Linked DNA regions of Homo sapiens: region 1 is linked to region 2. The links come from fine-mapping of genetic effects on gene expression. Tissue or cell type: lung. Region 2 holds a variant in brackets; the other region holds the start of a gene. All regions are shown on one strand. Distances are from middle to middle.

The links. PIP is the estimated chance that this variant, and not a neighbour inherited with it, causes the effect.
Region 1: it holds the start of ALK, and the variant in region 2 is fine-mapped to the expression of ALK in lung (TOPMed, PIP 0.99).

Annotation. Positions count from the first base shown.
Region 1 is chr2:29,920,236-29,922,735 of GRCh38, forward strand. It overlaps ALK (ALK receptor tyrosine kinase), which reads right to left and starts at 1,351. Exons shown (of 29, transcript NM_004304.5): 1 at 1-1,351. The coding sequence starts at 424.
Region 2 is chr2:29,221,773-29,224,526 of GRCh38, forward strand. It overlaps ALK (ALK receptor tyrosine kinase), which reads right to left. Exons shown (of 29, transcript NM_004304.5): 20 at 1,570-1,756; 21 at 745-835; 22 at 572-636. Among named protein-coding and RNA genes, the nearest start is that of CLIP4, 110 kb to the left of the region's middle. The variant G/A (reference allele first, on the strand shown) is at 1,564.

The DNA.
Region 1 (2,500 bases), 700 kb after region 2:
CCAACTGCTTGGCACGCCGGAGCTTGCGCACGGAGCCGCCCTTCAGCACCCTGGACAGCGTCCGGGCCTCTGCCGGGGCTGGTGAACCGGCGGTCCAGGAGACCCCCGGCGCCGGCCCCAGCAACCTGAGCAGCGGGGCGCAGTCCAGAGCTAGCGAGCCGCGGGCCTCGGGCCTGCCAGCCTTCAGCTCCGAGGAGGATGGTGGCAGCAGTAGGTCCCGGGCGTAGACACGGAAGAGCGAGGGCACCACGAAGTCAACTGCCAGACTCTTCCTCTGCAGGCGCGAGTAGCTGAGTGGCTCCCGGGGCTGCAGCGGCGGCCCCGCAGCTGGGGAGCCCGCGCGCTGGCCGGTCCCCATCCCGGAGCCCACAGCTGCCGTGGAAAGCAGCAGCGGCAGGAGCCACAGGAGCCCGATGGCTCCCATCCCGCCGGAGGAGGCCGTTTACACTGCTCTCCGGGCCCAGCCTCACCCTTCGCTCTCCCCGAGATGGGAAGAGGCTCTGAACAGTCCTTGGTACCCAGCGGCTCCTTCCACCTGATCTCCAGAGGACTGTGCGTGCGCGCAAGTCTCTTGCTTTCCCCCAACTGCACGGAGGCGAGCAGGAGTCTAAATGAAACAGACCTGGAAGCTCAGGGGCGAGTCCAGAGACACTCAAGCACACTGGGCTCACTGGCTGGGACCTTGAGCCTCCCGCTCTCCGCGCCGAGTGCCGCGCCCCCGTCTGTAGCTCGCTGCGCTCGGTACAGAGGAACTACTATGGTTGAAGGGAGGTGGCAGTTGGGTACCGTCCTCTCCTGCCCCCCGCAGTCGGAGCTGGGGTCTGTCCCCTCTCGGGGCAGCCTCCAATCTCTGCAACTTTTAAGGCTGAGAACGGCGGCTCCCAGCTGCTGCACGCTGTCCTGGCCGCCTTTTGCGTTCCTTTTGGCTCCTCCAAGCTCTTCTGCCCGGTCTGGGCGGGAACCGAGGGCGGAGGCTGCCGTCTTGCGCACCCTCAAGCTATCTCTCCGCTGCGGGAAGGCTTCGGACTGTCTGCCTGCTGAACTTCTGGGCGTGAATCCCAGCCCCCGCGCTGCGCAAGTTTGCAGCGTCCTTGCTCTCACCGGCGCCTCGGCTCCTCAGAGTTCGCAGGCACTGGAGCGGCCCCGGCGGCAGCAGCTGAGGGCGTTCAGGGCAGGGGCGCCCGAAATCTTGCCGCCCCCTCCTCACCCATCATCAGCGCCCGCGGCTTTGGGTGGCCGACCAGAGGGCGGCCGGAAAGCACCTCGGTGCCCCGCGACCCTCCGAACAGAGGCGGCGGGAGGTACCAGCTGCTACCACCGCTGCCGCCCCCAGAGCCGCTGGATCGCATCTGCCTGGGCGCCCGCCACTTGCAGCTGGCTGAGCCGCGCGAGCGCGCGCAGGGAGGGGGCGGGGCCCGGAGGGGGCGGGGCTCACAAGCCAACTCCGCGCTGCTGCCCGACCCACGCAGTCCGGCCTCGCCCCGCCCCACCCGCACCCTCCAACCAATGGCGTGGCTCGATCGGCTCCTATGCAAATCTGCAGAGGCCTCGGCATTCATTGAGAAAAGGAGTGAGCCCGCCCCACCCTCCCTCTGTTCCCTCTCCAGTCTCTTGTTCTTCCCCTCCTCTAGATTCCCTGCCCTATTTCTCTGCAGTGTGAAAGGGAGCAAATGTGAGAACTGGAAGAGGCCTTTGCAATCAAGCACTCTCCCTAATTATACATTTAAGAGATTAAACGGGTCCGACTTCGGAAAAACAGGTTCCAGAATAAAACTGGAGGAGAGGGGAAGGGAGGGGGGAGTGGGAAGGGAGGAGGAAGTGGGGAGAGGGTGGCAGCGCGACACTGGCAAATCTGAGAACAGCTTGTATTAAGGCCCTGAGACAGAATATTTTCTGACCCATCTATTATTTGAATGCATTCCTGGGAGCTTAGGAGTCCTGCCGTCCACACAGGAGAATTTGGGAATAGGGGGGCAGAGAGGGATGGATGGTCTTGGTCTGGCAGAGTTGTTCTGCAGCTACAACAAATACCTTTCAGACCCCTGTCAGTCGCTCTGTTTTCTCAGAATGGTGTCTGAACATGTGTAACCTCCCCTAGTCTCTGTAAGGCAAACATTTTAATTCCAGATTTACAGATGCAGAAACTGAGTTGCAGAGCATTTAATTGTTTGCCCACAATCTTGGGAATGAGGGTTCAGAACCTTAGGCCTTTTTTACTCACCTGTAATGGCTGTACCTCTCCTCTCCCTTTCCTTTCGTCTCTCCTGAGCTGCCAACACAGAACTCATAATAGCTGTTTTTATAACAAGTGGTTCACTAGATCCTCAGACAAAACTACCATCTTTGGGTCACACAAATCCCCTTGATTCCTTCTTAAAGGCTGGTTGTCAGGCCTTGGGCTGACTGTTGAAGCTAAGAATAAGGCAAGATCCTCTCTGGAGCTCACGGCCTGTCGGGTAGCACAGGAGTTTTCTCACAGGATCAGAGCACAGTGTCACAT
Region 2 (2,754 bases):
CCCCCACCTGATCTTGAGGTCAAATATCTGCCCCCTCCTTGAGGGGATCTGCTGTCACAGCGGACGCCCTCAGGAGCCATAGGCACTGAGACTCTCAGCTTAAATCCAGATCTTGGAGCCTCAAGTCAAAAGGTGCAGCCAGCTGAGACTCAGCCCTGCTGATGGGAGCCTAGGATGGGGTGGCCTCCCATCATATTAGAAGCACAATTACTGGGATTGGTGAAGGGTCTTGGAGGGAGATTATATCTTGTACTGTCAAAGTCTAGCATGCTCCATTTCTTAAGAAAAAGTGAGGGAAGAAGAACCAGTGGATAACAGCAGGGATACTGGTTGCAGACAGTGACATCGGTGGGATTATTAGGCCACACAGACTTTGTTTCTGAAACAACCATCAAGGGTTGTTCCATTCTGGTAAGAAGTGTCTAGAATGTTTGGGAGTCTCCTACTGGAGAAAAGGGGACATGCTAGGGACAACACGATTTCCCTTGGAGATATCGATCTGTTAGAAACCTCTCCAGGTTCTTTGGGGGCAGAGGGGAGTTGGGGTGAGGGTGTCTCTCTGTGGCTTTACCTGATGATCAGGGCTTCCATGAGGAAATCCAGTTCGTCCTGTTCAGAGCACACTTCAGGCAGCGTCTGGGCAGAGAAGGGGAGGGTGGGGAGGAGGAGGAGGCTGTGAGCTGAGAACTGCAGCCTACAGAGTCCGCAAGCCAAGGGCAGGCTCAAGAGTGAGCCACTTCTTACCTTCACAGCCACTTGCAGGGGGCTTGGGTCGTTGGGCATTCCGGACACCTGGCCTTCATACACCTCCCCAAAGGCGCCATGGCCCAGACCCCTGTGCAAAGGAGAAGACAAGAGGAGACAGAGTCAAACAGGCCACAATAATGAGGCAGCTGGGGGTCCTGAGCCTGGGCGTCACATTTAGTGGACAAACACGAGAGGCGGGGGTAACATACACACTCAGGAGTAATACCCTCAACATGGCTTTGCTATGCAATCTCGGGCTTCCAGTTCTTCACCTGAAAACTGGTAAGAAGGATTCCAACCAGGGACTCATGACAATGGTCAAATGTTTATTCATTCAATCAGTAGTTATTGAGTCTCTGATATTTGCCAGGGACACAGGGGTGCATAAGCCATGGCTTTTCCCCGGGGGAGGTTCATGCTCCTTGGGGAGAGACAGATCACTGTGGGTACTGGCTGGGGAGTATTTCCAGTGAGTGACAGAGGAAGGCGCAGTTGCTCTAGATGCTCAGAGGAGGGGCCCTTTGCTCCCCTGCTCCCCTGGAGGGAAGGGGAGCCAGGTAGACTTGGAGAGAGCACATCTGAATGAATTTTGAGGAGAGCCCTGGTTCTCCTCTCATTGTATAAACTCCATAAACTATGGGAGTTAATGTAAGCCAACATACATGGCCCTGAATGTCAAGGCTTGTCCTCCTAGGAGGGCTAGGGGTGCCCATAGGGAGGGCTCTGCCGGCCTTTTGTGGCTAGAGGAGTCTGCGGTGCTGTGATAACATTCAGCCCCTACACTGCACCCCTCTCCTCCCAGGACGGCAGCAGGGC[G/A]CTCACCGAATGAGGGTGATGTTTTTCCGCGGCACCTCCTTCAGGTCACTGATGGAGGAGGTCTTGCCAGCAAAGCAGTAGTTGGGGTTGTAGTCGGTCATGATGGTCGAGGTGCGGAGCTTGCTCAGCTTGTACTCAGGGCTCTGCAGCTCCATCTGCATGGCTTGCAGCTCCTGGTGCTTCCGGCGGTACACTGCAGGTGGGTGGTCAGCTGCAACATGGCCTGGCAGCCTGGCCCTTGAAGCACTACACAGGCCACTTCCTACAGGAAGCCTCCCTGGATCTCCATATCCTCCCCTGAGCTCTGAACCTTTCCATCATACTTAGAAATACTAATAAAATGATTAAAGAAGGTGTGTCTTTAATTGAAGCATGATTTAAAGTAAATGCAAAGCTAAAAATCAGATATATGGAAAATAATTATTTGTATTATATAGGGCAGAGTCATGTTAGTCTGGTTCCTCCAAGAAGCAGACTGGAGATGGGATTAGACCCAATATGGTCTGCAGATTTTATTAGAAGAAATGCCCATGAGAGGAAATGGGGAGGGAGCCAGGGAAGGCTGGGTGAACCAGCAGACTGTGTTGCAAGTATAACCCCACGTGAACGAGGGAGGGAGGGAAGGTTGGGTGGAAGCACCCTGGGTGCCATGGAGCCTAAGGAAGTTTCAGCAAGGCCCTAAGGGGTTCTGGAGCCAAAGTCAGTCATCAGAGGAGTCCCATGACTCCCAGGAATTGGCCTGCCTTAGTATTTCTGCTGTGCTCAGCCATTGGGTAGGGCAGCTTCAGTGCAATCACAGCAGTGGATTTGAGGGTGCAGCTGGGATCTTGGTCAGTTGTGTTTCCTATAGTTGGAGAACTGCCAAGCCACAGAGTTGGAGAAGAGCCACATCATGAAAAGATCTCTGAATTGGTGTCTGGGGATCTGTGCTCTAATTCCGCCTCTTGTTACTTACAAGCTGAGCCATGAGGACCAGGTCACAGGACCTCTTTGGACTGCAGTTTCCCTCTCTGTAGGCAGGGATGGTAACTCCTGCCCTGTTTCCCTAACCACTGCCACTCCCCACCCTCTAGGGTTGTCAATGAAATGAATTCACCAACATAAAATGGTTTTGAAAAATCCTAAAGAGCTCTACCAATGTGAGTGACCATTATCACTCCTACATGTGAGGATGTTCTGGAAGGCAAACTC